7 linked regions of the Homo sapiens genome follow. The protein of the gene in region 2 purifies or fractionates together with the protein of the main gene of each other region. This does not show direct contact. Each region holds a gene or a part of one and is shown on either strand. Other genes may lie near its edges.

Region 1 (3,500 bases), on a different chromosome or scaffold from region 2:
TTTTTTTTAACCTCCAAAATTGTTCTCATCTGAGTTACTTACCAATGTTAAAAAAGTTGGCAATACTACACACACACACACAAGCACACACACTAAGACAAAAAAAAAACTATATAAACAAACAAAAGGCCGGGTGCACTGGCTCATGCCTGTAATCCCAGCACTTTGGGAGGCTTAGGCGGGTGGATCACTTGAGCTCAGGAGTTCAAGTCCAGCCTGGGCAACATGGCAAAACTCTGTCTCTACAAAAAATACAAAAATTAGCTAGGCATGGTGGTGGGTGCCTGTAGTCCCAGCTACTTGTAAGGCTGAGGTGCGAAGACCATTTGACCCTGAGAGGCAGAGGCTGCAGTGAGCCATGACTGCACTGCAGCACTCCAGTCCGGGTGTAGAGCCAAACCCGATCTCAAACACAAAACAAAACAAACTAAAAAAAACACCAGCTAGTCTTTTCCAGAAAGACTGGACAATCTGGCCACTCTGGGACCACATTCCTGCCAGGCAGCAACAGGACAGGGTGTGGTAGCTGCTGTCCCCTTCAGAAAGAACCTGTTCTCTCCACTTCTCAGCATCCCCCAGAACTAAAAAGAGATATTTTCTTTGATGGAGCACAAAACATGTGTGTGTGTGTATGTGTGTGTGTATATATATTTCCCCACTTCAGTGTATGTATGGATATTAGATATATTACTGACTAGCCTAAATCAGGAGGAAAAAGCAGGCCAGGCGCGGTGGCTCACGCCTGTAATCCCAACACTTTGGGAGGCCAAGGCGGGTGGAACATCTGAGGTTGGGAGTTTGAGACCAGCCTGACCAACATGGAGAAACCCTGTCTCTACTAAAAATACAAAATTAGCTGGGTGTGGTGGCACATACCTGTAATCCCAGCTACTCGGGAGGCGGAGGCAGGAAAATCGCTTGAAACTGGGAGGCGGAGGTTGCAATGAGCCAAGATCATGCCATTGCACTCCAACCTGGACAACAAGAGTGAGACTCAAAAAAAAAAAAAAAAAAAAAAAAGAGGAAAACGGAGGAAAAACCCTAATTACAAAAAACAGGGAAGAAAACTAGGGAAATGGCCATAGCTACAGAGGAGAAAAGGTGAATTAAATTGGTAATTTTATAAGAATACATAAACCACCAAAACTGAAACCAGGACATAGCAAATTCTAAACAGACGTAGAAGACACTGTAGTAGTTACCGAAGTGCTATATTCTGAAACAGCACTGGCTAGGGTGGTGGCTCATGCCTATAATCCCAATACTTTGGGGGACAGAGGTGGAAGGACTGCTTGAGAGAGAAGTTCAAGACCAGCCTAGGCAACGTGGCAAGACCTGCCTGTACCAAAAAATTTAAATAAATAAATAAATAAATAAATAGAAAGGCACCAGGCTTAGACAGTTTTACAAGAGAATTTCTACCAAATTTTAAACAAATAATTTAAAAAATTCTTAAGCTGGCTAAAAGTTTAGAATAAAATGGCCGGGTGCGGTGGCTGACACCTGTAATCCCAGCACTTTCGGAGTCCAAGGCAGGCGGATCACGAGGTCAGGAGATTGAGACCATCCTGGCTAACACGGTGAAACCCCGTCTCTACTAAAAAAAATACAAAAAATTAGCCAGGTGTGTTGGTGGGCACCTGTAGTCCCAGCTACTTGGGAGGCTGAGGCAGGAGAATGGCGTGAACCCGGGAGGCAAAGCTTGCAGTGAGCCAAGATCGCGCCACTGCACTCCAGCCTGGGTGATGCAGCGAGACTCCGTCTCAAAAAAATAATAATAATAATAATAAAAATAAAAGTTTAGAATAAAATGTTATGTAAGAAACTTTTTACAAAGCTATAGAAAACACTAAAACAACTTGATAAAGGTTGCATAAGAGAAAATTACAGACTATTCTCACAAATGATGTAAAATTTCTTTTTCTTTCTTTTTTTTTTTTTGAGATGGAGTCTTGCTCTGTCGCCCAGGCTGGAGTGCAGTGGTGCAATCTGGGCTCGCTGCAAGCTCCACCTCCCGGATTCATGCCATTCTCCTACCTCAGCCTCCTGAGTAGCTGGGACTACAGGCGCCCGCCACCACGCCTGGCTAATTTTTTTTGTATTTTTTAGTAGAGACGGGGTTTCACCCGTCAGCCAGGATGGTCTCGATCTCCTGACCTCGTGATCAGCCTGCCTCGGCCTCCCAAAGTGCTGGGATTACAGGCGTGAGCCACCGAGCCCGGCCTCATGATGTAAAATTTCAAAATAAAATATTAATAAATAGGCCAGGTGCGGTGGCTCACGCCTTATAATCCCAGCATTTTGGGAGGCTGAGGCAGGCAGATTATCTGAGGTCAGTAGGTCGAGTCCAGCCTGGTCAACATGGCAAAATCCCGTCTCCATTAAAAATACAAAAATTAGCCGGGCATGGTGGCAGGTGCCTGTAATCCCAGCTACCCGGGAGGCTGAGGCCAGAGAATTGCTTGAACCTGGGAGGCAGAAGTTGCAGTGACCCGAGATCGTGCCACTGCACTCCAGCCTGGGCAACAGAGTGAAACCCCGCCTCAAAAAATAAAAATAAAAAATAAATGAATAAATAGAATCTGGCTATACAATAAGAGAGTTTATCCCAGGAATACAATGATGATTCAATAATATAAATCCATTACTATAACTCATTATGTTAACAGATAAAAGAAGAAAATCTCTATGATCATTCCACAGATGTACACTGGCATTTGAGAAAACTCAATCACCATTTTTTATTTTAAAAACATCAGTGAGGGAGCAGGAACAAAAACAAAAAGCTCCCCACAACATTAGCAACACACCCCAGCATGGCACTTAAATGGCAAAAACACTAACAGCATTCTCATTAAAGTCAGGAATGAAACAAGTTACTCAGTGTCATCCCTATTATTTAACTTTGTTCTAGAAATACAATGCAATCAGAAAAGAAAAAGAGGTCAGACATGGTGGCTCACACCTGTAATCCCAACACTTTGGGAGGCCGTGACAGGGAGATCACTTGAAGTCACGAGTTGGAGACCAGTCTGGCCAACATGGTGAAACCCCATCTCTACAAAAAATACAAAAATTAGCCATGTGTGGTGGCACATGCCTGTAATCCCACCTTCTCGGGAGGCTGAGGCAGGAGAATTTAGGCCTGGCACGGTATTTCATACCTAACACTTTGGGAGGCCAGGAAGAAGGATCGCTTGAAGCCAGAAATTCAAGACCAGCCTGGGGGCAACATAGTGAGACTTCATCTCTATTAAAAAAAAAAAAAAAAAATTAACCAGGAGTGGTGGCATACACCCAGCATCGATATGGGAGGATCGCCTGAGCCCAGGAGGTCTGGGCTGCAGTGGGCCATGATCATGCCACTGTGCTCCAGCCTGGGTGACGGAACTTTCTTAAAAAAAAAATTGTTTAAAAATATTCCAGGCCGGGCGCTGTGGCTCACGCCTGTAATCCCAGCAATTTGGGAGGCCGAGGTGGGTGGATCACGAGGTCACGAG
Region 2 (3,500 bases):
GAATGCTGTACTGGGAAAAAATATTTATGTATATATATATATAGTCATTTATATATATACACACATATATATGTATATATACATACACACACACACACATATATATGACTATTGAGACAACCTAAGAAGTTGGAGTATAAAGATAAAATTATGGTATCTATGTTAAAATTTACTGAATTTTTTTTTGCACTGTGGTTCTGTAAGAAAAGTATCTTATTTTTACAGAATAAATACTGAAGAAATAAGAGATAAAGGCAGAAAGTGTATGCAACCTACTCTCAAATGATTAAGAAATAAAACTGATTATGTACACATAGAACCCTGGAGCAATGGCAAACACAGGAAGCCATATGTATTTTAGGGCATGGCATGGTGGCTCCGATCTGTAATCCCAGCACTTTGGGAGGCAAATATCATATGATCTCACTCATGTAGAATCTAAAAAAGTTGGTATCACAGAAGTAGAGAGTAGAATAGTAGTTTCCTGGAGACAGGAGAATAGGAGTGAGGTGGGGATGGGGAAAGATTGGTGAACAGGTACAGAGTTACAGTTAGGAAGAATAAGCTCTAGTGTTCTATTGCACAATAGAGTTATTATAGTTAACAATAATGTATCATATACTACAAAAGAGCTAGAAGAAAGGATTTTGATTGTTCTTACCAGAAAGAAATGATGAGTGTTCAATGTAATGAATATGCTAATCACCCTGATTTAATTATTACACAATGTATATGTATATGGAAACACCACACTGTACCCCACATATGAAAAATTACTATATGTCAGTTAAAAACAAAAATGTTACATAGTAACTTAAGTAATTTAAAAAAACATTTTCCAGCATTTACCCATCAAAGTAATTTCTTCCTTCAATAAAGAAAAACTATGAACTAATAATGCTTCCATTAAACAAAACCCCTTTTAATTAATAGATTTATGAAACTTTTTTTAGAATTTCCTCTGGAGTCTACAGATCATTCTTTTGACTATACTCAATGATGAGAAATTTCCTTGTTTGATAGAGGATTTAATTTTAGAAAGTCGCCAGAGATCATTCAGAGTCTAATCCATTGAAAAAAGTAGGTGGCCACTTTGAAGCTATCTGGTGTGTCCAACCAGGTTTTTATGACAAAATACTGAACAGAAGCAAAAAAGTAGGTGATTAAGCTGAGAAACAACAGCATCTTTATTTGAAAGTGAGAGGTAACCTTTAAAAATCACTGATTATAAGGTCAGCTCATCATGTATATTATAGAATATTTAAGGAAAAATTAGAAAAAATCTATCAGTCTAACTTTCAGTAATGACCACTGTTCACACTTAAACACAGTATAGTATACAGGCTGGGCACGGTGGCTTATGCCTGTAATCCCAGCACTTTGGGAGGCTGAGGCAGGCGGATCACCTGAGGTCAGGAGTTTGAGACAAGCCTGGGCAACATGGTGAAACCGTGTATCCACTAAAAAAAAAAAAAACAATTAGCCAGGCATGGTGTTGCACGCCTGTAACCCCAGCTACTTGGGAGGCTGAGGCATGAGAATCACTTGAACCCTGGAGGCAGAGGTTGCAGTGAGCCAAGATCATGCCACTGTATCACAGCCTGGCTGACAGAGCAAGACTCCGTCTCATAAATAAATAAATATCATCCGTTTTTTTTTGGGGGGGGGGGGTTATATACAGAAAAAAATTAAAATTAAATTCTACCATCTTTTCTCATATTATGCTAAAATACAATTTAAAAATGATTTGCATTTGGACTTGGAGTTATATAACTTGATTCAGTGATATTCTCTGAATCTTTATTTTAAAAGTCATCTGTTCCATTGCATCACTTTAGGAAAAGCAGAAACTCTTATAGAGAAGGAAATGTCCTTGAAATTTGTTAATAATATTATAATTTTAAGCTTAGAAAAAAGCAAGATGGTCTCTATATTATTATTATTACTTTTTGAGACAGAGTCTTACTCTGTCACCCAGGCTGGAGTGTAGTGGCACAATCTCAGCTCACTGCAAACTCTGCCTCCCTTGGATTCTCGTGCCTCAGTCTCCCAAGTAATTAATTTTTGTATTTTTTTTTTTTTTTTTTTTTTTTTTTTGTAGAGATGGGGTTTTGCCATGTTGGCCAGGCTGGTCTCGAACTCCTGGCCTCAAGTGATCTGCCCACCTTGGCCACCCAAAGCGATGGGATTACAGGCATGAGTCACCATGCCCAGCCAGTCTCTATATTATTTTAACTAGTGATTTAAAACTTTAAAGTAATAACACACTGATGGCAAAAACAAAACAAAATCAAACAAACAAAAAACCCCAACACAGTACAGAAGGGTAGTGCTCTTCCCAATCTTTCACTCTTGACCTTATATCCTAGCCCCACTCCATGGAGATGATAATAATTTAAACCCTTTAACATCATCCTATGTAACCTTTTAGAAAATGCCTATGCATTCGAGATTTTCACCTCCACTGAAGACAAAAGTAATATTTATTATTAATGAGTATTCTCATCTCCAATGTTCCTTCCTCCAGAAAAGTGCTTTTTCACTGGAAGATACCTAAATACATGTTGAGCTTTACATAGTAGAGGAGAAAGATGATTTTATATGAGATTTACTTTCCACCTAGAGGAAAGGAGCTATGGACAGCACACACAACACTGGCCTTGCTAACTGAGGTGAGGAGAACCAGGAGATGAAAATCAGCAAGAAGTGGAGTGGCAATGCCAGAGAGCAAGTTAGTTTAAGACAGACACAAAACTGATGGGAGTGTTGGTGACTATTACTCCAGTGGGAAGTCAGAAGACAAGTTATTAAAGTAAAAGAGTGTTGAAGTGTTTGCCTCTCTTCAGAGGATTTTTAATCATGGAAAAGAGGAAAATAAAATCTTCAGAAAAAAAAGAAATAAAAAGAAAAGTAAGGCCTAGACTGGTAGACAGTGAGAGAATTCTGTTTTGGAGCAATTGCTTAAAAATCGTAATAGTGGACCTTCAGGAAGCTCAAAGGTGGTGGTGGGCATGAGTCCAAATATTGGCTCACTTACTAGTTCTCTCAACCAAGAAACTCCCATCCTCCCAGAAGGGGACCTGCCCAAGCCTGTCTAGCAGGTGAAGCTTTATTTGAAGGGCTACACACACACACACACACACACAAAGTTACTTTCCATATGCATGCTTATTACATAATGAGAGCATGAACTGGATAGAAATGCCAAGCCTAGTCTAGGGCACGCTGATGACATGGGACTGGATTCCCCAACACAACTTTACAGAAGTGGACCATACAAAATTGAATTAAAGGAAATAAAAAAGAACTAGTACAGAGCTACAAGCTCTCTGAATCATACATTTTAAAAAGGTTTAAGCCAGGTATGGTGGCTCATGCCTGTAATCCCAGCACTTTGGGAAGCCAAGGCGGGCGAATCACCTGAGGTCAGGTGTTCGAAACCAGCCTGGCCAACATGGTGAAACCCCGTCTGTACTAAAAATACAAAAATTAGCCAGGCA
Region 3 (3,500 bases), on a different chromosome or scaffold from region 2:
CTATAAGAAAAGCGCTGCTAAAAACCAGGTAACTGTAGTGAAAGGAAGAAACACTGGACTAACATACAGAAGACCCACGTTAAAGTCCCAGTTCGGTTACTTTGTCAGGTTAGTCATGTTACTGTTTTTCTAAACATTAGTTTTCTCTTATATAAAATAGTAATAATAAATACATACCTCATTGGGTATTAAAATTATGAATGGGAAGCCACATATACTAAAAAGCTCAGTAAACTGTAAAATGGCAAGGTATTGTTATTACTCTGTATTAATTACACATGACACATCATTCTAGACATTTTCAAAGATGCTCCAAGCTATCCTCTGAGAATGAATAAAAAAGAAAGATGATTTACCCACTTAAATAGTAATATCACTTCCCTACAATTAATTTTCTGACTAGATTACAAGTATATTAATAATTATAGAAAGTTTAAAATTTAATTTGAAATAATTAGGGGTTGAGAATAATTACGTTTTAGCAAAAGAGACAGGTGATAAAAATAGTATTTAAGAAAAATATTATTCAGTATCAAATACTAAAGACCATAAAAATTCTCAAAATTAGCCAATCACGTTTTTTTCAGGTAGCAGATTAAGGCAATTACCCAAAACTAAAAGTCTATCATTTTTAAAAAACCTGAAAAAAATCAGTTCTTTAAAAGATTTAACTTGTTAACTTCAAAGCAGTTTTTCCAAACCTGAACATTCATTTTAGGTACTTACAGCATGCCCAAGTACTGCATGTGCTATTTCATGGCCCAGAAGGAAAGAAAGTTGATGAATATCGGTTACACTATTTAAAAATCCAGTGAAAACAAACATTTGTCCATTCTGCACCACAAAGAAAATAATGTAAGCAATTAGAACATCATAAAAAATAAGGACAATAAATTTAACAATTACAATGCGTTTGAGAACATTTACTTACTGGAAGCACGAAGGCATTAATAATTGGGGAATCAACCACATGAATAACCCAATTGATCTGAGAGATCCCTGGAACATCTTTATTGCATTCAATTAGATGACAAAGCACTTCTTTAACAGCCAGGTATCGGGCATCTTTCTCAGTTAGCATATCATTTTTAAATTCTTCCATCCACTGAAAGATTAAAAATTACTTCTTATTTTAAAAGAGCACTACAAAATGCTTACTCTGCTTCATGGAAAGTTATATGGCTACTTATTATTGAACATTTTAAGTTTTAATTATATAAAAATCTGCATATATTAAGCACTGAAATTTCTCAAATCTGAATTATTCATGCAAAGACAATGTGGTTTCTTACAAAGGAATAAATTCTAATACTAAGTTTTTTTATGAATAGATTGACATCAAAATTTCATTCTTTTCGATTAAACTACAAACGAATACTTAAGTATTATTTCTACTTTCCTAAACATTTTAGAAAACACTGCCTAGGCCAGGGCAAGATGGCTCACGCCTGTAATCCCAGAACTAGGGGAGGCCAAGGCAGGAGGATCACCTCAGCTCAGAAGTTCAAGACCAGCCTGGGCAACATGGTGAAACCCCGTCTCTACCGAAAACACAAAAAATTAGCCAGGCGTGGTGGCATGCACCTGTGTTCCCAGCTACATGGGAGGCTGAAGTGGGAGGATCGCTTGAGTCTAGGAGGTGGAGGTTGCAGTGAGCTGAGATCTCGCCACTGCACTCCAACACCAACCTGGGTGACAGAGGGAGATCCCATCTCAAAAAGAAAAGAAAAGGAGAGCCTGGAGAACTTAAGATTTCATCTAAGTAAAATACAAAAGAAAATTAAATTCACAATGCATTGAACAGAAAAACACCCTATACCTAATAAGAAAGTTAAACTACCAAAATAGACATTTCATTAATTTTAAGGTGTTTTACTCACAGATTGAAAGGAAATTACTGAATTCTCAGAACTAATGAGCATTATCACTGTCTCTAAAAGATGCTGATTAAGACTAGCCACCACAGAAGATACTTTTTCTGAAGTTATATTCATGAGAGCTCTTTCAAGTGTACTGAGAAAATTAAAAATGTTCTGAAATATTACTTTAACTTTCATAAAGTGTATGCTTTTTTTCACTTAAGAATCAACAAGCGGCTGGGCATGGTGGCTCATGCCTGTAATCCCAGCACTTTAGGAGGTGGGCAGATCACGAGGTCAGGAGATCAAGACCATCCTGGCCAACACGGATGAAACCCCATCTCTACTAAAAATACAAAAATTGGCCAGGCGTGGTGGCGCACGCCTGTAGTCCCAGCTACTCGGGAGGCTGAGGCAGGAGAATAATTTGAACCTGTAAGGTGGAGGTTGCAGTGAGCCAAGATGGCACCACTGCAGTACAGCCTGGGTGACAGAGCAAGTCTCTGTCTCAAAAAAAAAAAAAAAAAAAAGATTCAGCCATGCCAAAGCTGTCAAGTGAGGCTACTGGACATGAATTCGAAAAATATTAATTGAGCCACAGGGCACATAACATGTGTATGTGCTATGAACTGGAGAGAAAATGACCTCTGTCCCTAAGAAACTCACTAGGGTACAAAATGTTTAACTACCTGAGTTACTATACTTTCCAAAGAGGTAAGACTTCTAAATTATAACTTAAATTTGGATTCAAAAAATATAATAAATTGCTAAAACTGATGTTTGGGAAAAAAATCTTATATTACTTGATTTTCAAGGTATAAGAATTCTGACTATAAATCTATTTATTCAATAAATATATACTAAGCTCTACTCTTACATACTGTGTTAGTATTTAAAACCATAAACAAAACAGGTAAGATCCCTGCCCCCATGAAGCTTAGTCTAACAAGAAAGACAATCAAAAAAATAATTATGCAAATAATTATGTTACTCTCATGAGTGCTTTGAAGGAAAAGTACAGTATGCAGAGAAAAAAAGCCTAGGAGACCTAACCCCAGTAAAGCCAAGCAATGGGCGCAACTACAAATGAGCTGGTTCATAATTCAGTCGGTATGAAGGATACCTCCTAGGGCCTGATCCAGTCACCCTGCCTAACCCAGTCTGGATAATCAAGGAAGGTTTTCCTGAGAAAAGTGACATTTAAGGTGAAATGTGCTGAGCAGGAGTTAGCTGGGTGAATGCTAGGAAAAGCAATGTAGGCAGTAGGAATACTAAGTGTGAAAGGTCTGAGGCCTTCGGGAAAAAAAAATGCTAATTTCATATCAAAGACTAAAATTAAAAAACAACATATCTTTCACATTTAAGATACTTTCCTACTTTGAGTGTTATATTAAGCAGTCTAATTAAAAACAACTCTTACTACTTACTGCTTCATATTCCAGTTCCGATAAAAGTCTGAACTGTTCTTTCCCCAATAATAGTAGCTTGCTCCTTCCTGTGATTGGACTTACTTCCAGGTGAGTAAAATAAAACACCACAAAGAGCAATCCAAAACTACTCAAACCAAGGAATAGCTTCCATTTATTCTTCCTTATATTTTCTTTAACTACTTCCTTCTTGTTAGGAGGAAGTGCCTGCCAC
Region 4 (3,500 bases), on a different chromosome or scaffold from region 2:
TGGCCAACATGGTGAAACCCCGTCTCTACTAAAAATACAAAATTAGCCAGGCGTGTTGGCGCATGCCTGTAATCCCAGCTACTTGGGAAGCTGAGGCAGGAGAATTGCCTGAACCCGGGAGGCGGAGGTTGCAGTGAGCCAAGATCACACCATTGCACTCCAGCTTAGGCAACAAGAGCGAAACATCGTCTCAAAAAAAAAAAAAGAGAAAATGCTCAAATGTAATAAAGACAGTATTCATCGAGCGTTTTCTCTGTGCCATCAGTGTGCTGAGTGCTTTACCTGCACCATCTCATTTATTTCCCGCAAACCCTCCTGTGGTTTAGGTGCTACCATCCCCATTTGGCAGAAGTGGAAATGGAGTCCCCTAGAAGGTACGTAGCTTGTAGAAAGTCATGTAATTAGTCAACATCGTACTTCCAGCCACTGGCCAGCAGAAGCTTCCCCATCAATTCAAATCCATTGAATCCTAATGGCAATTTAAGAGGCCTGTTTTATTTTATAGGTGGGTGTTTGTGTGGGAAAAGGGCTACCAGGAAACTGACTCCGTGGTCAGCTCCGTTACGACCAAGGTCAAGGGCGTGGCTGTGACCAACACTTCTAAACTTGGATTCCGGATCTGGGATGTGGCGGATTATGTGATACCAGCTCAGGTGTGTCTCCCACTGTGTCTTCTGTCTAACACTGACACCTTGCTCTTTACTGACTTTGCACACTTGATTAATGATTGACGTGGCCTGAGTCCTGACATCACCAATGCCCAGAATGATTGTTTTAGTCCAAGAAAACGGTGCAGCCAGATCTCTTTTCAGCTTAGGATCTAACAGAGTGTATCCAGGCAGCTGTGGTTCCTCAGCTTGAAAGCATGGCAGGCTGAAAGCCCTGAAAGATGAGAAAACAAATGTCTTAAATCCTGATAGAAATTCAAGTGGAAATATCACCTTTCCACATTTTGGGTTTGCATTATTGTCCCAAATACACGAGGTAAATCTTTTCAGACAGTGTAAAAACTTTAGGCCGGGCACAGTAGCTCACGTGTGTAATCCCAGCACTTTGGGAGGCTGGGGCGGGCAGATACCTTGAGCCCAGGAGTTTGAGACCAGCCTGGGCAATGTGGTGAAACCCCATCTCTATAAAAAAAAAAAAAAAGAAAAAAAAAGAAAAGAATTAGAGACCATTAGAGACCAAAACCCAAACAAGAAGGAAACAGAGACAGCAGCACAGGACTCCATCGGGAGCGAAAGGAAGGGAAGACATTGTTTACTGCTGCATACTAGTCTTCAGGCTGTTAATCTGCAAAGCTCCAAGTTAAACATTGACTCTTTAGTCCTGGTAACAGCTCTGCACCACACAGTCAAACCCGACATAGCCCTCCAGATGGCCTATGTGCTAAGGGACCGAGGGCGACCAGTAGAGATAAGCTGCCAACTCTTGGCTCAGAGCTCTTGCCAGGGAAAACAAGAACTCCAGAAACTCTTTCTTCAGGTGTGTTCTTCCCCCTGCCTTCTCAAGAGAAGGGTCTTGTGGGGTCCCCAGAGAGGAGACCGAGCTAATGAGCCATAAAAGTCAGGAGGAAGGGCCAGGTGCGGTGGCTCATGCCTGTAATCCCAGCACTTTGGGAGGCCGAGGTCGGTGTATCATGAGGTCAAGAGATTGAGACCATCCTGGCTAACATGGTGAAACCCTGTCTACTAAAAATACAAAAATTAGTGGGGTGTGGTGGTGGGTGCCTGTAGTCCCAGCTACTAGGGAGGCTGAGGCAGGAGAATCTCTTGAACCTGGGAGGCGGAGGTTGTAGTGAGCCGAGATAGTGCCACTGCACTCCAGCCTGGTGACAGAGCAAGACTCCGTCTCAAAAAAAAAGATCAAGTGGAACAGGGGATTTGCAGTTGGCTGGAGGGGGCAGTCCTGTTAGCATGTACCTGTCTCAGCAGAGAGACGGTTGCCTCCTGTGCAGGCATAGCCTTGTCCCGGTGAGCTCTGGGAATGTCATGCTCGGTGTGTTTACTGGGCAGATGAGGAAGGGCACAAGCCCCGCTTTTGTCCCTTGGTGGAAAGGAGCACCCCACAACTCAGCCTTCCGTGGTGGATCTGGGCGGGGGCCGTGTGAGTTCCCCAGGGCTTTCCTCATGAGCTTTCACGACGTCTGTGTTCTTTGTAGATGGAACACAGTCATCTATTTGCAGCCCCTTGGCTCATCTCCAGACTGAAATTACCCTTAATTTGAAGTAGATAAGTGATAGGAAACAGGCCAGATGTGGTGGTTCATGCCTGTAATCTCAACACTTTTGGAGGCCGAGGCAGAAGGATCACTTGAGCCCAGGAGTTTGAGGCTGAAGTGAACTGTGATCACGCCACTGCACTCCAGCTAGGGCAACAGAGCAAGACCCCAACTCTAAAAGAGAGAGAAAGAAGGAGAGATAGGAAACGAAAAGTAGACCATACTGGATTGTTCCAAGTATAACTCAGGAGAGTCGTAGGAGCGGCCTTCTCTAACACCAAATGCAGAGTGTGTTTGTACATTGAACACCTGGGAACGTGACAGGTGGCGGGAGAGAGGCTGCAGCTCATGCCACATCCTCACGCCTCCTCCTGTGGCCTTCTCCTTGTCTCCCAACATAGTTTGCCCTAGGCCTTTGGAGGACGCCAGCTATTTCTAGAGCTTCCACCACTTGTCAGACCGTGGGGTTGGGGATGTCTACAGACTGGTTGGTTTCTGAGTTGCCCTGATCCCCAAGATGGCTCCCACTACTGACTGTTATCCTCAGGAGTGTGAAATGCTAAAAGCTTTGGGCATCTCCTTTTAAAATGCCTGGGCCCAGCCAGGCGCAGTGGCTTACGCCTGTAGTCCCAGCACTTTTGGAGGCCAAGGCAGGAGGATCACTTGAGCTCAGGATTCAAGACCAGCCTGGGCAATATAGTGAGACCCCATCTTGATTGGATGGGTGGTGGATGGATGGATGGATGGATGGATGGATGGATGGATGGATAGATAGATAGATAGATAGATAGATAGATAGATAGATAGATGGAAAGAAAGAAAGAATAGATAAATGATAGGATAGGAGAAAGAAAGGGAAAGAAAGAAAAGAGAAGAGAAAAGAAAGAAAAGGGATAGGATAGATGACAGATGATAGGATAGATTAGATAGGTGATAGATAATCGATAAATAGAAAACAGATGATAGATATAGGATAGATTAGATAGATAGATAGATAGATAGATAGATAGATAGACAGATAATAGATAGATTAGATTAGATGGATGGACACCAGCCCCCAATGAGAGGAGGATCCAACTAGAATCTTTTGGGGTCTTTGCCTTTTATTCCTTATATGAGGAGGTCATTATCAGCAATTCTTCAGTCTCATCCCTAGCAAATTGCTTTCCAGAAACTCTAAATCAATTATTTGGCACCTTTATACATATAAGGAGGAAACAGAACCTTTTCAAAGAGAAATGTCACTTGCTGACCCTGACCGAGTCTTCTCTAGAATGTT
Region 5 (3,500 bases), on a different chromosome or scaffold from region 2:
TTAGGTTTTGATATTATGGCTGGGCGTGGTGGCTCATGCCTGTAATCCCAGCATTCTGGGAGGCCGATGCAGGTGGATCACTTGAGGCCAGGAGTTCAAGACCAAGCTGGCCAACACGGTGAAACCCTGTCACTACTAAAAATACAAAAATTAGTCAGGTGTGGTGGTGTGCACCTGTACCCCCAGCTACTCAGGAGGTTGAGGCAGGAGAATCGCTTGAACCCAGGTGGCAGAGGTTACAGTGAGCCAAGATCGTAGCACTGCACTCCAGCCTGGGTGAGAGAGAGAGACCCTGTATCAAAAAAAAAGGGGGGGGTTCGATACTACTTTTATGATAGTTTCTAGATGACTTAAAAGCTTTTCACCATTTTCTATGTTCTGGGTTATTTAAAATAACATGGGAATTGTTTTTTGTTTTTGTTTTTTGGAGACAGGGTCTCACTATGTTGCCCAGGCTGGAGTGCAGTGGCATGATCATAGCTCATTGCAGCCTTGACCTCCCAGGCTCAAGTGATATTCCTGTCTCATTCTCCTGAGTAGGTGGGACCACAGGTGTGTGCTACCAACTCCTGGCTAATTTGTTAACTCACCAGCTCAAGTCATCCTCCCACCTAGCCTCCCAAAGTGCTGGGGTAACAGGCGTGAGCCACCTCGCCTGGGCTTTTTTTTTTTTTTAATTTGTTTCCTCCTTTTTGAATCAATTTTTGTAATTTACACTGTCTCAGTATTTTCCAGTATTTTACCAATTGATAAACTGCAAATGCATATTAATATCATATTGGCATGCTGATGATGATAATCAGTAGTTACTACAGAGACACATGAGGTTACCATTTTAAAGGCTGTAGTAGAGCTTAATGCCTGTTAACACATAACTTCCTGTGGTCAGGCAAACCTCAATTGAAGACCTAGTTCTTCTACTTACTAGGTGCATTACTAGGTGCATTACTAGGTGCATTACTGAGTGAGTTACTTAAGCTTCCTAAGCTTTAATTTCCTCATCTACAAAAAATGGAGGAAGATAACTACCCTATAGGTATATTTTTAAAAAGTTACATAAAACACTTAGCACAATGTTGGGCATATGGTAAGCATTCAATAAATGTGAACATTTAAAATGTTTAGGTTGATTTTACACTAGTGAATTTTACCTTTATTTTTCTGTAATGTTATAAAGGTAACTGAATTTTCTTTTTTTTTTTGAGACAGAGTCTCGCTCTCGCTCTGTGGCGCAGGCTGGAGTGCAGTGGAGTGATCTCGGCTCACTGCAAGCTCCACCTCCTAGGTTCACCCCATTCTCCCACCTCAGCCTCCCAAGAAGCTGGGATGACAGGTGCCCGCCACCATGCCCGGCTCACTTTTTGTATTTTTAGTAGACATGGGGTTTCACCGTGTTGGCCAGGATGGTCTCGATCTCCTGACCTCATGATCTGCCCGCCTTGGCCTCCCAAAGTGCTGGGAGTGCAGGTGTGAGCCACCGTGCCCGGCCTAAAGGTACCTGATTTTTAAAAGGGAATTCAAAATGAAAACATGACAGAATTGAGATTCTAAGAATTATGCACAGTCCGCTATTTTAATTGATTCAGTTTAAAGCATGAAGTAGCTATAATAAGCACAGACCTATAAGAAATGATGTTGTAGGGAGGGAAAAAATTCAGAAAACTGAAGCTAAGACCTTACCATCAGCGCTCTCCTTTGAGCTATCAATGGAATACCACACGAATACCATATCTGAATGCTAGAAAGGAGTTGTCGGCTTCTAAATATGTCTGCAAAATTACACTAAATATTTCCACTTCATTAAACCGAAATTTATGTGTTAATTCTACGTTTTTCCTTTTTATTTTTTATACCTGAGGTTCTCCACTGATGTCGATACAACTGGCTCCATTTTCAATACATGCTTTTATTACAGGTTCTCCATAAAACCGATACTAGGGAAACAAAAAGAACAAAGAGGTTATTCTTGCTTGACAAGTTTAAATGAATAAAATGCCATCTAATCCTGGAAGTAAACAGTCCTAGTTATCAAGAAATCAACTGTTAATAAAATAGCCTAAAGATAAATTCAGAAAGTGGCCAGGCACAGTGGCTCACACCTGTAATCCCAGAACTTTGGGAGGCCGAGGCAGGTAGATCACTTGAGGTCAGGAGTTCAAGACCAGCCTGGCCAACATGGTGAAACCCCATCTCGACTAAAAATACAAAAATTAGCCGGGCGTGGTGGCACACACCTGTAATCCCAGCTACTCGGGAGGCTGAGGCAGGAGAATGGTTTGAACCTGGAAGGTGGAGATTACAGTGAGCCAAGATCGTGCCACTGCACTCCAGCCTGGGCGACAGAGTGAGACTCCGTCTCAGAAACAAAAAGATAAACTGAGAAGATACCTGCACAATACCATCTCTCACAGTGTGAATAAATAAAGGCATGATGGAATTACAGAGCAATGTATGCTTACCTCTACCTGAAGACAAAAGGAAAAGTTTCATACAAGTGATTCCCTTGAGTTGAACCCTAAAGAACAAATAAAAATTTTCCAGGAAAAAGAAAAATCCAGATACAGGAAAAAGTAAATGCAGAGGTTAAGAAAAAGGAGCTGTTCCTGTTGCTTGAAGCAGGAATCAAATTCACTTGAGTAGGAAGTAGAAAGAGATGGGTCTGAAAAGGCAGGCTACGGCCACATCAGGAAGGACCACATGTGCCATGCTAACAAGTTTCAACTTTATCCTTTCTAGTTTACTTGGCTTTCCAGAAGAATTTTAAACAGGATAGTGGTATAAGACTTATAGCACAGACGATATACTAAAGATGAGACATACAATACTAAAAAGGTGGAAATGACTGGATTTCCTGACTAGCTGGGCTGGACATGGGGGCCAAGAACCAGTGGTATTATTGGTCAAAATTAAAAACAAACCAACAGGAAGAAGAGAGTTTGCAAAGGATAAGTTTGATACTGAACAGAGCAGATATTCTGAGCCTGTATGATATTAGATTTCCCATATTATCTGTTATTCAAACTCAAGGAATTAAAATACAAATTTTCATATGTAAAAGCTAATACATCAGAATTCAGTCCCATTTCCAAAGAAGCATGACAAATCTTTTCCTTTGTGAAGAAGTAGATTAGAAGCACAAACTCCTCTGCTTTATTCATTCCTGGCAGCAAAAGATGGAACAAGGAAATCGTTTCTTTCTTCCAGCCTTTGAGGAACAAGGGACACTTAAAAGACACAATCGACCTTTACAAATAGGTCAGATGGGCTGCCCTCTTACCTAACTCCAAGACCTCACACCTCTTACTAAGAATGGCGGATAACACTGGAATTACAGGACTGGGAGAAGTGTGTGAAATTCGAGTTCCTACCCTCCCATTAACAAACCACATGAAATTAATGAAGAACTCTACTTCTGAGGCAGTATGGTATCATGGAACAAAGGATTTCAAGGCAGTAAGACCCAAGTTCACACCTGGAATCCATCACCTACTAACTATATG
Region 6 (3,500 bases), on a different chromosome or scaffold from region 2:
GGGCTTCATCTCTCCTTCAGGACCCCAAGGAATTATTTTATTTTGCAAAAAAATTTCAAATCAGATGCCTTTGCCACAGCCCATGCTGGTGTATGAGCTACCACTGGCTGCCGGGGTGCCTGGCTGCCGGCGCCTGCTGCAGGCAAGAGTTTGCATGTTCTTTAAAAAGCTGGGTTCTTTTTCGGGGGTGGGGGGTGGGGGGGCTCTTTTGTTTGTTGCCAGCCAGAAACAACAGAAATGAACCGGCGAGGGTAAGACACAAGATGGACAAAGTCCTTTCCAGAAGGGGCTCGTGTGAGGCTTCTCCCTACACCCCTCAAAGCTTAAGCAGTTTAAATGCTCGCTTTATTGTGAAAAGATTGACAAACCCAGTGCCTGCAGAGTAATGGTTTGATTTTAGATAATCAGCAACAAGAGGACTCAGGGACTACAGCAAAGTCATGGGTTCTGTGGCCAGCCAGGCTCTCCTGTTCAGTGGGGCTGCAAACCAGCTATCTCCCAGACTCAGGGGCCTACAGGGACAGGACCCCTGCTGCTGCCTGGAGAGCACTCACAGGAGCACTCACAGGAGGAATAACCACCTGCAAGGCTTGCAAGGCACCACGGAGGCATCTGTCCATCCCACAGGACACTCCCAGAGCGCAGGGGAGCCACCAGTGAGGGAGCTGGGAGTTAGGGAGCGGGGAGTTAGGGAGTAGGGAGTTGGGGGGGAGTTAGGGAGGGGGGAATTGGGGAGGGGAGTTAGGAAGAGGGGAGTTAGGGAGAGGGGAGTTAGTGAGTGGGGAGTTAGGGAGGGGGAGTTAGGGAGAGGGGAGTTAGGGAGGGGAGTTAGGGAGGGGAGTTAGGGAGAGGGGAGTTAGGGAGAGGAGTTGGGGGGGAGTTAGGGAGGGGTGTTAGGGAGAGGGGGGTTAGGGAGAGGGGAGTTAGGGAGAGGGAGGTTAGGGAGGGGAGTTAGGGAGAGGAGAGTTAGGGAGAGGGGAGCTAGGGAGAGGACAGTTAGGGAGAGGAGTTAGGGAGGGGGGAGTTAGGGAGGGGAGTTAGGGAGAGGGGAGTTAGGGAGAGGGAGGTTAGGGAGGGGAGTTAGGGAGAGGGGGGTTAGGGAGAGGGGGGTTAGGGAGAAGGGAGTTAGGGAGGGGAGTTAGGGAGAGGGGAGTTAGGGAGGGGGGAGTTAGGGAGAGGAGTTAAGGAGAGGGGAGTTAGGGAGGGGAGTTAGGGAGAGGGGAGTTAGGGAGGGGGGAGTTAGGGAGAGGGGGGTTAGGGAGAAGGGAGTTAGGGAGGGGAGTTAGGGAGAGGGGAGTTAGGGAGGGGGGAGTTAGGGAGAGGAGTTAAGGAGAGGGGAGTTAGGGAGGGGAGTTAGGGAGAGGGGAGTTAGGGAGAGGGGAGCTGGGGGGGAGTTATGGAGCAAGGAGTTAGGGAGGGGGGAGTTAGGGAGATGGGAGTTAGGGAGAGGGGGGTTAGGGAGAGGGGAGTTAGGGAGGGGAGTTAGGGAGAAGGGAGTTAGGGAGAGGGGAGCTAGGGAGAGGGGGGTTAGGGAAGGGGGAGTTAGGGAGGGGAGTTAGGGAGGGGAGTTAGGGAGAGGGGATTTAGGGAGGGGGGAGTTAGGGAGAGGAGTTAAGGAGAGGGGAGTTAGGGAGGGGAGTTAGGGAGAGGGGAGCTGGGGGGGAGTTATGGAGCAAGGAGTTAGGGAGGGGGGAGTTAGGGAGATGGGAGTTAGGGAGAGGGGGGTTAGGGAGAGGGGAGTTAGGGAGGGGAGTTAGGGAGAAGGGAGTTAGGGAGAGGGGAGCTAGGGAGAGGGGGGTTAGGGAAGGGGGAGTTAGGGAGGGGAGTTAGGGAGAGGGGGGTTAGGGAGAAGGGAGTTAGGGAGAGGGGATTTAGGGAGGGGGGAGTTAGGGAGAGGAGTTAAGGAGAGGGGAGTTAGGGAAGGGAGTTAGGGAGAGGGGAGTTAGGGAGAAGGGAGTTAGGGAGGGGGGAGTTAGGGAGGTGAGAGTTAAAGAGCGAGGAGTTAGGGAGCGGGGAGTTAGGGAAACTGTGCTTTTCTCTGTGCACACCCAGGAGGCGTCTCCCTGCTGCTGCCCTTTCCCAGGAGAAGGGCTCAGGGGCCACCTACCTCCCGAGGCCATCCCCAGGCCTGCCGCTGCACTCTGAGCAAGGCTATAATGAAGGGAGTGGCGACTCCCTGGACAGCAGACAGCCAAGAGGGTTTGTTTCTCCAGCTTCCTGCAGGAGTGGAATAGGACAGGTGGCAGAACCAGCAGGTTTACTGAGGGCTGCCAGGCTCCTCCCTTTCAGGATCCAGGCAGGGCAGGAAGCCACATCATCCTGTTAAGAGGCCGCCACATCCTAGCCCCCACCTCCTTGGAAGGGACGGGTAGGCAGGTGGCAGGTGCGCCAACCCCTTATCTCTGGAGAAGAGCTACCTTCCTTTCCCTTCCCACACCCAGAGAGCAGGCAGGCAGGCCTCAGAGTGCCCACTGTGTTCACTGCCATGGTAAAGAGCAAACCCCACTGACCTACAGACTCTTCAGCACAGCCAAGGCAGAAGCCAAGGCCTTCACACACTCATGCTAACAGCGCCTGAGAGAACACGGGTGGCGCATCTCAAAGAAACACTTATTAATGCCTGCTATGGGCCAGACTCCTTGAAAACGTTACCTGATTCCTGCTTTGGCACTTGCAAGGCTAACTATTGTACCTGCAAATTCCACGGCAAATCTCCTCGGGGGTGGGCAGTACAAGGAAACCAGAAAGGAAGAAGGTCACAGGGAGTCTGGTTAGGCCATCCTGCCTCCACAGACAGCACGCTCCTTAAAGGTCAAGCTCAGGATCTGACTGACTTCTGCACCTGTCCCCGCCCCTAGTATCCAGCACACGGCAGGCAGCAGGCACCGTCCTGTGGGACAGAAGCCTCACACGGGCCATGGCTCCATTCTCATGCCTCTTCCAGCTTCTGGAGGCACCCACATTCCCTGCCTGGTGGCCCCTCCTCCCCCTCCAAAGCCCGCCCACTGCACTTCCCCAAGGCTCTTGGCCATCATCTCCCTCCGGCTCTTCTGCTTCCCTCTTCTGTTCTTAAGGACCCTGTGATTACACTGGGCTCCCTGGGAAAATCCAGGATCATCTCACTACTTTAAGGCCGGCTGATCAGCAACCTTAATTCCCCTTTGCCATGTAATGTAACATATTCACAGGCTCAGAAGGTAGGACGTGGACATCTCGGGGAGCTGTTCCTCCACCAATCACAGGAGGAAGAGGGGAAAGAGCCTCCAGGTTTTTCCAAGGGCCAGGACCAGTCACTGTCTATGGTGTGGGCGCACAGCTTCAGAACCCTCTACGGTTTGCAGTTACTGCCTTGTAAAGAGGCTGTGTCTGCTTAATTTGTATCATCGATGTTACACCTGGAGGAATTTTAGCCAAAAGGCGACCTTCTCAGTTGAAAGGCACATTCCAAATGGCACCACACATCTGGGAAGGTGTCCTTTTCCAGAGTGTGTGAAAATAAC
Region 7 (3,500 bases), about 16 Mb from region 2:
TTAGCACACATCACAATCACCTGCAGGCTTGTTAAAACAGACTGCTGGGTCCAACCTCAAAGTTTCTGATTGTTTGTCTGGAGTAGGACTAGATAACTCGCATATATAACAAGTTCCTGCTCAATGTTGATGCCATGGTCTGGGACCACTCTTTGAGTACCATTGGTGTAAAACACTAGTATATGGGATCCTGTATTTCAAAATAAGGTTTCATCCTTCTCTAGTTGTCATGGTTTATATAACCAGCTCTTAGGAGCCTTAGCCAGGTTGTAAAAAATTGCTGTATTGTAGGAAAAAATGCCCACCTCTTGCCCGCCAATCAATGGCTAGTATTGGTAACCGAGGTGAAGAAAGTAAAAGGATCTAAAGATGTAATGAGCCTGGGCAACATAACAAGACACTGTCTGTTTTTGTTTTTGTTTTTTTTCGAGACAGAGTCTTGCTCTGTTGCCCAGAGCTGGAGTGCAATGGTGTAATTTTGGCTCACGGCAACCTCTGCCTCCCGGGTTCAAGTAATTCTCCTGCCACAGCCTCCTGAGTAGCTGGGATTACAGGTTTGTGCCACCACGCCTGGCTAATTTTTGTATTTTTAGTAGAGACAGGGTTTCACCATGTTGGCCAGGCTGCTCCAGAACTCCTGACCTCAAGATCTGCCCACCTTGGCCTCCCAAAGTGCTGGGATTACAGGCGTGAGCCACCGTGCCCAGCCACAAGACCCTGTCTCTAAAAATAAAATTAGTCAGGCATGGTGGCACATGTCTGTAATCCCAGCTACTTGGGAGGCTGAGGGGGGAAGACGGTTTGAGCCCAGGAGGTCGAGGTTGCAATGAGCTATGATTGTACCACTGCACTCCAGCCTGGCTCACAGACTGTGATCCCATTTCTTAAAATAAATAAATAAATGACTGAAAGAAAGAAAGAAAGAAGTAATGGCTTTTAGTCAGAAAAAAATTTGTGAATAAATTTAAAATTAAGTATCCAGTTCAAAGGGGACTCCATCTGTTAGGTAAATGAATTCACAACAAAAGGAAAGAGAAAAAAAATTGTAAAGCTAAAACTGTTTCAGGAAGGAGCTGTTTCTAGCTAATATACAAGTAGCTCACTAGATAAGAGAACAACTTTGCATTAAAGTTGAAAATGTGGTTAACTTGTGGCATATGGATAATCTACAGGAAACCTGACAAACATGATTTGAAAGGACAAAGTCATACATGCCTGGTACAAACATTTCCACGTTTACAAATTTGGGAATTCAAGATCATCTTGAATATAGCCTTTGATAATGTTGAGTTTAATGGGCTGGGCATGGTGGCACATGTCTGTAATCCCAGCACTTTGGGAGGTAGAGGTAGGAGGATCGCTTAAGCCAGGAGTTTGAGACCAGGTGGGCAACATGGCAAAACCCCATCTCTACAAAAAATACAAAAATAAGCCAGGCATGGTGGCATGCACCTGTAGTCCCAGCTACCTGGGAGGCTGAAGTAGGAGGATCACTTGAGTCAAGCAGGTCAAAGCTGCAGTGAGCCATGATGGTGCCACTGCACTCCAGCCTGGGTGGCAGAGTAAGACCCTGCCTCAAAAAAAAAAAAAAAGAATTTAATGTATTTCTCTGTTTTTCAAACTGGAACAATCATGATTTTTATCCTTCAAACATCACCACAGCCATGAATCATTATGCAATGTCATTTCCTGTTTCTTTATCACATAGCCTTTTGTTGCTATGTCTCACAACCTTACACAGGTTGAGAGTATCCTTTACCCAAACTGCTTGGGACCAGATTTCGGGTATTTTGGGATTTTGGAATATTTGCACATACATTATATCTTGGGGATGGTGCCCAAGTTTAAATATGAAATTCATTTATGTTTCACATCTACCTTATATACATGGCCTAAAAGTAATTTTATAAAATATTTTACACAATTTTGTGGCTAAAACAAATTTGTGTACTCTTAACCATCAGAAAGCAAAGGTGTCAATATCTCAGCCACTTGTGTGGCATCATGTCAGCGTTCAAAAAGCTTCAGATTTTGAAGAGTTTTGGATTTCAGATTTTCAGATTAGGGATGCTCAATCTGCATTCATTTTGGAGTACTGTTAGGTCTATAGTTTTGAAGCTAGTTGTGACACATAATTGGGAGATTAGCTTCCACATCTCACTAGGACATACAAAGGAGGTGGCTATGTGTTGAGAGCTACTTAAAATCTAGATATTTCAAGTGTGAATGAATATATCTTTACTCGGGGTAAACAAAAGATACATGCTATCGGGCATGGTGGCTCACACCTGTAATCCCAGCATTTTGGGAGGCCAAGGCGGGCGGATCACCTGAGGTCAGGAGTTCAAGACCAGCCTGGCAAATATGGAGAAACCTCATCTCTCCTAAAAATACAAAAATTAGCTGGGCGTGGTGGTGCCTGTCTATAGTCCCAGCTACTCGGGAGACTGAGGCATGAGAATTGCTTGAACCTGGGAGGCAGAGGTTGCAGTGAGCTGAGATCATGCTACTGCGCTCCAGCACAAAGCGAGACTTGGTGTCGGAAAAAAAAAAAAAGAAGACAGAAGCTGTTCTGAGTTTGTGTTCTCTACTGCTGTATTATAAGTAACCAATTAATGGACTCTCTCCCTTTCTTTCTTACTAATAATATCTCATTTTTGTTGGAAGGTGGCAAATGTGCTCAATCAGAAAACAATTCTTCAACTTCACTTACATAAGGGTAGCCATATAACCTTGTTCTCTCCAATTATCTGTAAGCAGAAAATTCAGCTTGACTGAAATAGGTATTTTCTTCCCTGATTCCACCTTTCTGCTGCCTGAAACATGGACGCATTGGCCATGACTGGAACGACCATCTCACGACCATGAAGAAAAGACAAGGGAAATGTCAAAGACCTATGCCTTGGTATCCTTATGGCCCTAATTAACACAAGCAACTGCCTGTTTTTTGGAATTGTCATTCCATTAGAAAAATAAAATTTACTGTTTACTGAAGCCACTGTTTTGGGGTCTCTCTTTCTCTTAGTCAAGTGCAACTAATTTTTAAAGAGACCAGCTAGTCAGGTGGCTCATGCCTGCAATCCCAGCACTTTGGAAGGCTGAGGTGGGAAGATTGCTTGAGCCCAGGATTTTGAGACCAGCCTGGGCAACACAGCAAAGTCTTGTCTCTACAGAAAACAAAAAATTAGCCAGGCATAATGGCTCATGCCTATATTCCCAGCTACCTGGGAGGCTGAGGCAGGAGGAATACTTGAGCTCAGGAGTTTGAGGCTACAGTGAGCTATCATCATGTCATTGCATTCCAGCCCAGGCAACAGAATGAGACCTTGTCTCAAAAATAAATAAGACTAAAAGAAAAGCACCCATTCCAACCCTCAAGGAACATAAATAATAATAAACAATATGAGACACTGTATAAATTGCTAAATTATGAGAAATCATCAGGAAATGCCAAAGGAATTCAGAGAAAATGTTTTACAAAACAAATCAAGAATTCAAAA

The links.
Region 1: the proteins of BZW2 (region 2) and ABHD12 purify together in Homo sapiens (co-immunoprecipitation; one large-scale study listed by IntAct). This does not show direct contact.
Region 3: the proteins of BZW2 (region 2) and OMA1 purify together in Homo sapiens (affinity purification with mass spectrometry; 2 studies listed by BioGRID and IntAct, with this or other methods). This does not show direct contact.
Region 4: the proteins of BZW2 (region 2) and P2RX4 purify together in Homo sapiens (co-immunoprecipitation; one large-scale study listed by IntAct). This does not show direct contact.
Region 5: the proteins of BZW2 (region 2) and SCCPDH purify together in Homo sapiens (affinity purification with mass spectrometry; 2 studies listed by BioGRID and IntAct, with this or other methods). This does not show direct contact.
Region 6: the proteins of BZW2 (region 2) and CANT1 purify together in Homo sapiens (affinity purification with mass spectrometry; 2 studies listed by BioGRID and IntAct, with this or other methods). This does not show direct contact.
Region 7: the proteins of BZW2 (region 2) and NT5C3A purify together in Homo sapiens (affinity purification with mass spectrometry; 2 studies listed by BioGRID and IntAct, with this or other methods). This does not show direct contact.

Annotation. Positions count from the first base shown.
Region 1 is NC_000020.11:25,384,336-25,387,835, forward strand, and holds part of ABHD12 (lysophosphatidylserine lipase ABHD12), read right to left. Parts: intron 1-3,500.
Region 2 is NC_000007.14:16,652,681-16,656,180, reverse strand, and holds part of BZW2 (eIF5-mimic protein 1), read right to left. Parts: intron 1-3,500. UniProt on the Homo sapiens protein: Translation initiation regulator which represses non-AUG initiated translation and repeat-associated non-AUG (RAN) initiated translation by acting as a competitive inhibitor of eukaryotic translation initiation factor 5 (EIF5) function.
Region 3 is NC_000001.11:58,533,227-58,536,726, forward strand, and holds part of OMA1 (metalloendopeptidase OMA1, mitochondrial precursor), read right to left. Parts: coding exon 3,287-3,500; intron 1,106-3,286; coding exon 932-1,105; intron 835-931; coding exon 727-834; intron 1-726. UniProt on the Homo sapiens protein: Metalloprotease that is part of the quality control system in the inner membrane of mitochondria. Activated in response to various mitochondrial stress, leading to the proteolytic cleavage of target proteins, such as OPA1, UQCC3 and DELE1.
Region 4 is NC_000012.12:121,216,629-121,220,128, forward strand, and holds part of P2RX4 (P2X purinoceptor 4), read left to right. Parts: intron 1-326; coding exon of another isoform or gene 327-374; intron 375-505; coding exon 506-653; intron 654-3,500. UniProt on the Homo sapiens protein: ATP-gated nonselective transmembrane cation channel permeable to potassium, sodium and calcium. CTP, but not GTP or UTP, functions as a weak affinity agonist for P2RX4.
Region 5 is NC_000001.11:246,734,409-246,737,908, reverse strand, and holds part of SCCPDH (saccharopine dehydrogenase-like oxidoreductase), read right to left. Parts: intron 1,935-3,500; coding exon 1,854-1,934; intron 1-1,853.
Region 6 is NC_000017.11:79,003,265-79,006,764, forward strand, and holds part of CANT1 (soluble calcium-activated nucleotidase 1), read right to left. Parts: intron 1-3,500.
Region 7 is NC_000007.14:33,052,777-33,056,276, forward strand, and holds part of NT5C3A (cytosolic 5'-nucleotidase 3A), read right to left. Parts: intron 1-3,500. UniProt on the Homo sapiens protein: Nucleotidase which shows specific activity towards cytidine monophosphate (CMP) and 7-methylguanosine monophosphate (m(7)GMP). CMP seems to be the preferred substrate.